Linked DNA regions of Homo sapiens: region 1 is linked to region 2. Evidence: fine-mapped expression QTL. A gene starts in region 2. The other region holds a variant in brackets. All regions are shown on one strand. Distances are from middle to middle.

What was found. PIP is the estimated chance that this variant, and not a neighbour inherited with it, causes the effect. A credible set is the group of variants that fine-mapping cannot tell apart.
Region 1: its variant is the best candidate, but not a certain one, in a credible set for the expression of LDHA in whole blood (TOPMed, PIP 0.82).

Annotation. Positions count from the first base shown.
Region 1 is chr11:18,248,683-18,253,067 of GRCh38, forward strand. No RefSeq gene overlaps it. Among named protein-coding and RNA genes, the nearest start is that of SAA2-SAA4, 2.2 kb to the left of the region's middle. The variant C/A (reference allele first, on the strand shown) is at 2,222.
Region 2 is chr11:18,392,472-18,396,786 of GRCh38, forward strand. LDHA (lactate dehydrogenase A) reads left to right here and starts at 2,092. Exons shown (of 8, transcript NM_005566.4): 1 at 2,092-2,165. RefSeq lists enhancers at 1,387-2,051, 1,698-1,787, 2,052-2,717, 2,098-2,187, 3,452-3,953 and a silencer at 2,948-2,997.

The DNA.
Region 1 (4,385 bases), 140 kb before region 2:
TCTTGGGAGGGAAGAAAAGCTGGATGTGGTCCCTGGGGAAAGTCCCTGCAGGTCATTTCCCCTACAAACTGGTCTAAGACAAGTTCCTGGATGCCGGTGGTTTCTTCATCCCGGGTCATTTATCCCAGTTGTGTAACCTATGGGAACAAGAGAGGTTTGCTGTGCCTTGGCAATGGACAGGGTGCTAGATCAGCTCTGCTCCTCAGCATTGGGGGAAGTGCAGCTGCAGAGATGCCAGTGGGAGCCCCGTGATGGCGGCACCTGGGCTGCTGGAAGGTGTGGAGTGAGGGCAGCTCTTCAGCCAGCTCCTGACTATACCGGTCATTTCCTCAGGATGGGCCCTGCTGGGCCACATGGCAGATGACCCTGACTGAAATCCCTGTGAGTTCATGTCTAAAGCTTTAAGCTTTAAAACGGACAGCCTACCCCTGCCACATCTCATGTGTGCCCTGGAAGCCTCCTTCCACCCCTCTGGATGTCCTGATATTTCTCAGCACAGAAAATCTCTGCTCCGCTGGCTTAGCCAATTTGGAAATGCTTTTTCTAAGTTGGCTCCTGAGCCAAGGACAATGTAGAGAGGGGGACTTTCTGCTGCCCCAGCCTAGTCCTGGAGCCCCACCTTGGGAGAATGAGAGTGTGGTGCGTTAAATAGGCAGCCCAGCTGGGGACGTGCCCAGCATCCAGGCAGGGAAGGGTGGGAGAGCTCTTGGTCTGCTGTATTATCACGGAGGGGTGCAGGGGGCATGCAGATCACTCTCTCATGAGAACATCAACAGGGTCAGATTAGCTCTGCAGAGGCTTATGGAGGAGCATGGTGGCCAGAGATGGGTCAGTACCAGAGCCCAGGGGGGCTGAGGCCAGGACATGCAGAGAGGCTGGTGGACATAGCAGCAACTCTGGTTTCTTCTTCTCCAGTCCATGTTCATACCCTGAGGGCTAGGCATTTGTAATAACAAACAAACAAGCAATTTAGAAATGGGCCAGGCATGGTGGCATGTGCCTATAGTCCCAGCTACTTGGGAGGCCAAGGCAGGAGGCCTGCTTGAACCCAGAAATTTGAGGCCAGCCTGGGCAACACAGCAAGATTATCTTAAAAAATTTTTTTTAATCTCTGAGAAATGGGTAGGGCCAGGAAGTAAAGGATGGCCAAATACTCCATAAGCAGCAAATGCGTGGCTCCAATGTGAACAATGATATTATAGACTCTGTTCTGAGACCTATGCATTGACACCTCCACCTCCCCCACTACATCTTGCCACCTTAAAACCACTGAGAGTGGTACCTGCTGGAATGGGTCCACACACACAGTCACACATATTTTAGGCAGGGTAGTTGACATCCCCAGGGAAAAAGAGCTCACAGAGAGAGGCTGAATGTTTCCAACTGGGTAGCAGTAATAGTACATCATGCTGTACATGGTACAGCACAGATCAGGTGAAAATAATAGCACATCGTGATTAACCAGGGCTTATTCCAGGGAGTCAAGAAGAGTTTCATATCAGAAAAATCTATCTTTGTAATTCACTATACCAGTAATCAAAGAAAAGGATTGTACATTTATTTTACTAGATGCAGAAAATGAATTTCATAATTGTCAACATCTACTGATGATAAGGAAAATGTATAACAAAATAAAGAGACCATTTCTGACTTGAGAAAGGATAAATACCAATATGTTATAGCAACAGTTCTCAAACTGTTTTCCAGGGAACCCTAAGAATCCCTCCTTAGGGAGGCTTTGATCTCAAAATTATTTTTAGAATAGTGCTAACACACTATTTTCATGTTTCAGTCTCATTTTCTCATGAGTACACACAATATGACAAGTTAGTTGATATGAGTGTGGATTTCCACATGGTAACTGACTTTTCAGAAGCTACCACTTGTTGAGTTTGGTATAATATAGAATAGCCACAATTATCTAAAAATACCATTAAAATACACTCCCCCATTTCAACTATATATCTGTGTGAGGCTGAATTTTCTTCATATACTCCAACCTAAATAACATATTAAAACAGGTTGGATGATGAATCAGATAGGAAAATCCAGCTATGAAAAAAAAATCAGACATGAAAAATTTTCAAAAGGGTAAAACCATAGTACTCTTCTTACTTTTTTTCTTTTGGAAGATGGTTATTTTTCATAAAAATATATTATTTATGTTAACATATAGAAGATGGATAATTTTTTGAAGAATTGATAAATGTTTAAATTTTTT[C/A]TTTCTATTATGGTAAATACTGATGAATAGAGTCCCCATAAATAAAAGTTCTTTGGGGTATTCAATAATTTTTAATAGTGTAATGGGATCCTGAGACCAAAAGGTTTGAGAATCATTGCTCTACAGCAAACATTATGTGTAATTAAGACACTTCAGGTGCATTCTCAAGAAGACCAATAAAGAGGCCACAATGGCAGGCGTGGTGGCTCACACTTGTAATCCAAGAACTTAGAGAGGACGAGGCAGGTGGATCACTGGAGGTCAGGAATTCTCAACCAGCCTGGCCAACATGGTGAAACCCTGTCTCTACTAAAAGTACAAAAATTAGTCGGGTGTAGTGGCAGGTACCTGTAATCCCAAGTACTTGGGGGGTTGAGGCAGGAGAATCACTTGAAGCCGGGAGGTGGAGGCTGCAGTGAGCCGAGATCGTGCCACTGCACTCCAGCCTGGGCAACGGAGTGAGACTTCATCATGGAAAAAAAAACAAAGAGGCCAGGATGTCTGGTTGTTACTGCCACTGTTTCACATATCCCTGAAGGACCTGCCCAATGCTAAAGAAACACAAGGAAGGTAAGAGGTGAAAGAGAAGAAATGAAACTATCATTGTTTGAAGATGACACCATCTTTTACATAGAAAACCTGTTAGAATCAAATGGCAAGCTATTAGAACTACTAAGAGAATTCAGTGAGGCTGCTGTATTCATGGCAAAATTTTAACAATTGATAGCATTTCTCTGCAACATTCCTTAATAGTTATAAAATACAGCACAAAGTAGTACCAAAAATATTAACTATCTAGGAAATAACCTCTTACAGAGAAAATTTAGTCTGTTAAAGGATAAACAGTGGCAATGTACGTCATGTCCACAGAGATTATATTTTAGCTTAGCAAAGATACCAATTCTCCCAAATTTATTTATAAATTAAATGCAATGTGAATCAAAATTTCCCACTGGAATTTTTATCAGGAAGGCAACAAATTCTTTCTTTCTTTCTTTCTTTCTTTCTTTATTTATTTATTTATTTATTTATTTATTTATTTCCTTCCTTCCTTCCTTCCTTCCTTCCTTCCTTTCTTTCTTTCTTTCTTTCTTTCTTTCTTTCTTTCTCTCTCTCTTTCTCTCTCCCCCCCTCTCTCTCTCTCTGTCTCTCTCTCTCTCTCTTTCTTTCTTTCTTTCTTTCTTTCTTTTTAAGACAAAGTCTGGCTCTGTCACCCAGGCTGCAGTGCAGTGATACAATCTCAGCTCACTGAAACCTCAACCTCTCCGGCATCAGGTGAACCTCCCACCTCAGCCCCCCGAGTAGCTGGGACTACAGGTGCACACCACTGGGCCTAGATAACTTTTTGTATTTATTGTAAATAAACACAAAAAATAAATATTTTGCTCAGGTTGGTCTGGAACTCCTGGGCTCAAGCAATCCGCCTGCCTTGGCCTCCCAAAGTGCTAGAATTACAGTTGTGAGCCACCACACCCAGCCAATAAATTAATTCTTTATGATGAATAAGTTATCTATGAAAATTAAGTCAGCTGGGTGCGGTGGCTCACGCCTGTAATCCCAGCACTTTGCCGGGCTGAAGCAGGTGGATCACCTGAGGTTGGGAGTTCAAGACCAGCCGGACCAACATAGAGAAAACCCGTCTCTACTAAAAATGCAAAATTAGCTGGGTGTGGTGGCATATGCCTGTAATCCCAGATACTTAGGAGGCTGAGGCAGGAGAATTGCTTGAACCCGGGCGGTGGAGGTTGCGGTGAGCCAAGATTGCACCATTGCACTCCAGCCTGGGCCACAAGAGCGAAACTCCATCTCAAAAAAAAAAAAAGAGAAGTTAAGTCAATGAAAAGTTAAGTCAATTAAAAAAGTAAGAGCTGTAGTGTTTAGATATATACACACACACATATATATATATTTATCTTTATATATGTATATATATCTTTTCCTTTTTTTGAGACCGAGTCTGTTTTTGTTGCCCAGGCTGGAATGCAGTGGCGCGATCTCTGCTTACTGCAACCTCTGCCTCCCAGGTTCAAGCGATTCTCGTGCCTCAGCCTCCCGAGTAGCTGGGATTACAGGTGCCTGCCCCCATGCCCGGCTAATTTTTGCATTTTTAGTAGAGACGGGGTTTCACCATGTTGGCCAGGCTGGTCTCAAACTCCTGACCTCA
Region 2 (4,315 bases):
TTTATCTTCACAGGTCATCTCAGAGTGCCCCAACCCAAGCCTTTCAGGTGAAAATTCTTCGTCTCCCCAGCCAACTTCAGCTCTCTGCCTTCTGCACACCTCTTCCCAGCAGCAGTGGTCACATTTGGTAGGCAGGCAGGGGCCCAGCCCTGACTGAGAACACTGTTGCAAAGACTGAGAAACCGGAAAACACTGTGGCAATCTGCCCTGCCCTGAGGTACTCTGAAGAATCAGTGGCCCACCCCTAAACTTTCCAGCTGTGTGTTTGAGGTGAGAGCCCCATTTCAGAACCTAGAGTGATCTTAGAATCTAGAGTGATGGGAAAACTGTTAGAACATGCAAGCATGCCCTGCTATTTTTTTTTTTTTTTTGAGACAGGGTCTCACTATGCTGCCCAGGCTAGTCTCGAACTCCTGGCCTCAAGCAGTCCTCCCACCTCAACCACATTGGTGCTGGGATTACAGGCATGAGTCACTGCACCTGGCCCCTTGTGCTATTTTGGAGCTGAGGTTAGAGTTTTCCGTCAAAACCAAGAAACTCAGTTATGGATCTATCTCAAAGCTGCACTGGGCTGCTGCTGTAGGTTCAGGGAGTAAGTAAAGCCATCCACCCCTTTGGGCTGAAAGTTCCAGCCCTCTAATTCCCTAATCATTTGGTCTTTCCCATGACTGGCTCCTTCCTGAGGCTATCTAAGACTCCTCATTCATTAACATTAAGTCAGGGAAAAAGGCTCTTTATAAATAACAAAAGACATTCCTATCAGAAAATTCAGGAAATTTTGGCATACTCAAGGGCTTACCAAATATATTTCATAATATACCCCACAGTGGGGAAGTATTGGTACAAATTAAAGAAGAGATGGAGGAGGGCGGGCTAGGCAATGGAATCAGCAAGAATACAGGCCCAGAGGTAAGTATGATAAGAAAACAAAAAATTGAGCTGGGCACGGTGGCTCACGCCTGTAATCCCAGCTCTTTGTGAGGCCGAGGCGGCCAGATCACTTGAGGCCAGGAGTTTGAGATCAGCCTGACCAACATGGTGAAACCCCGTCTCTACTAAAAATTACAAAAATTAGCCGGGCGTGGTGGCGCCTGGCTGTAATCCCATCTTCTCAGGAGGCTGAGGCAGGAGATTCGCTTGAACCCGGGAGGCGGAGGTTGCAGTGAGCCGAGATCAGCCCACTGCACTCCAGCCTGGGCGACAGAGCGACTCCGTTTCAAAAAAAAAAAAATTAATAATTAAAAAAAAAATCGCAGGGCAAGTGGGCGCGCTTGTAGTCCCAGTCACTTCGGGGAGCCGAGGTGGGAGGATCGCTTGAGCCAGAAGGTCGAGGCTGCAGGAAGCCATGATCACGCCACTGCCCTCCAGCCTGGGTGACAGAGTGAGACCCTGTCTCGAAAAATACCAAAAAACAAATAAACAAACAAAAAACCAAAACCAAAAAAACAAGCCACTGACAGTTCTTGGGTATGGTTGAGACTCGAGATGAGATGCCAGTGGGGTGGGCAGTAGAAAGTGCAGAATAAAATGTACATTTGAACTGAGTCACCCTGCAAGGCCTGAGAGGCCAAGGCTTCACTGTGAGTGGGAGCTGGTAGGCTTAGCAGCAGAGGGAAAAGCAGCGTCGAGTTTTGGAGGTCACTCGACTTAGGTAAGAACAGACTGACTGACTGCTAGGCATTTTCTTCCTTTCGTTCAACAAATATTTGTGGAGTGCCTATTACGTGCCAGAAGCTGTTCTGGACACTGAGAAACAGGGATGAAGAAGAAACAGATCCAAGCCTTCCTGAGAGTAACCTCCCCAGGTTTCATGGATGAGGAAACTGAAGGTCGTCCTGACTCAGGCTCATGGCTCCGACCCCGGCTTCTGTGGTTGGAGGGCAGCACCTTACTTAGACTCCCAGCGCACGTGGAGCAGTCTGCCGGTCGGTTGTCTGGCTGCGCGCGCCACCCGGGCCTCTCCAGTGCCCCGCCTGGCTCGGCATCCACCCCCAGCCCGACTCACACGTGGGTTCCCGCACGTCCGCCGGCCCCCCCCGCTGACGTCAGCATAGCTGTTCCACTTAAGGCCCCTCCCGCGCCCAGCTCAGAGTGCTGCAGCCGCTGCCGCCGATTCCGGATCTCATTGCCACGCGCCCCCGACGACCGCCCGACGTGCATTCCCGGTACGGTAGGGCCCTGCGCGCACGGCGCCAGAGGGATGGGCGGGTAGAGCCAACTGCCTCTGGTTCTGCTGGCCTCCGCTGCTCGCGAAGGGATTCCTGCTCCCGGGAGGTGTAGGAGCCGCTTTCCAGAAGCACAGCCCAGAGACGTCTGGGCGGCGGCCCACACAACGCATGTGTTCGGAGCTCGCCGCGCTCTGCTTTTGCTCTAAGCGGGAACCATGGCTTCTGGCCACGCTGGGGAACCGAGGAGGTGGCCGCACCCAAGCAGGGGTCGAAAGCCCGGGTGGATGCGGAACAAGGATATGATAGGCCTTAAGGGTGGGGGATACCTCTGGGCTCGAAATCGGCGGGCGGTGCAAAACTCGAGGTCCAGTTCTCGGAGCCCATAGAGCCAAAAAAGCCTCAGCTTGTCCGGGGCGGGTTCTTGAAAGACGGAAAGCGGCTGAGTACCACGCGGCTTGCATTTTTCTCTTGGGACGCTCGAGAGGTGGGCTCCGTGAGGGCAGCTGCTGCCTGCAGATTATAGGGAGCCCTTTGCGCATTTATTAAGAAGCTACTGGTGTATCTCGGGCTGCGCTAGGCACGGCGCATGCAAAGATGAAGCAGGCAGCATCCCAGCCCTTCCGCACCTCAGACGGTCAGTTGAGTAGGATCCGCCGGTACCAACTCCTCCTTTTAACAAATAGGGAGACCGAAAGCTAGGAGACAGTCAGGGATCTCTAAGTTCCCAGTGAGTAGGAGGCAGAGGTGAGGTGTAGAACTCGTTTTTGCATGTCTCTCGCCTCTAGACGCACCCTTCCCTCATCCCATGCCCTCCCACCTCCGCCCCTACATTAAAGGTAGCATTGGATCCCGGGGCCGTTCAGTGAAGCTAGCAGGTGTCCGCAGGAACTCCCTTCCCCCTGCCAGGCTAGAAACCTTACAAGGCTGTCTAGAAATAGCAGTGATTTGTAAGGAGAGACCCGGCTCCAGCTTGGTGACTCTGGGCTGACTGCCTGCCTAGAGGTCCTCTCGGATTTTTGCCCTTTGGAGTGGTGTCAAAACTAGACGTGATACTTTGGGGATGCAGCCTGTGATATTTCCTCCAGCGAATGCAGTGCAGGGTTGGATTAACAAGGTGGAAAGAATTCGAGGGTTCCACCAAGTAGCTATTAACTCTAGGGCTGCAGGCCTCAGGCCTTCTGCAGCTATTTCTACACTCCCTGTACTGAAACTATTTCTTCATACTGGGCCTGACAGGCCTTTGCAACAAGGATCACGGCCGAAGCCACACCGTGCGCCTCCCTCCCGGTTGGTTAACAGGCCCTGGTTTCTAGTATTGCGATTTAAAGTCTGGCGCTGGCTGCGCGCCAGACCTGGGAGGCTGCCAGCTAGGCTTCACGTTGCTGGCGTCTGCTTCGGGGCATTCATTAGGTCTGAAGTCTGAATCCCAGCTCCCTCCCTCTCACCCACTGAGCTGCATAGCTCCAGATTGCCTCTGCTTACGGGCGGGGCTTCTCAGCCTTCTGCCTTCTGGCCCGATGCCCGCTTCCCAACGGCCGGAGGCCGCTAGACTAATCGGCTTCGCCCTGCGCGCTGTAATGCGCATGCGCACGCGCACAAGTTCCTGGGCCCGCCCATCTTCCGGACTTGGGCGGGGCGTAAAAGCCGGGCGTTCGGAGGACCCAGCAATTAGTCTGATTTCCGCCCACCTTTCCGAGCGGGAAGGAGAGCCACAAAGCGCGCATGCGCGCGGATCACCGCAGGCTCCTGTGCCTTGGGCTTGAGCTTTGTGGCAGTTAATGGCTTTTCTGCACGTATCTCTGGTGTTTACTTGAGAAGCCTGGCTGTGTCCTTGCTGTAGGAGCCGGAGTAGCTCAGAGTGATCTTGTCTGAGGAAAGGCCAGCCCCACTTGGGGTTAATAAACCGCGATGGGTGAACCCTCAGGAGGCTATACTTACACCCAAACGTCGATATTCCTTTTCCACGCTAAGGTATGGGCCTTCACTCTTCACAGACCCTGTCATTAGGCCTTTCAACTCTCTTTTGGCAACCATTAGGTTTTTTCCCCTCCCTTTTTAGTCATCTCTAGTGATTTATAGTGGCAAATACCCCCAAAGGAAGTAAAATAGCTTAAAAAAATCTCTTGGTTAATAAACATTAAAGAAGC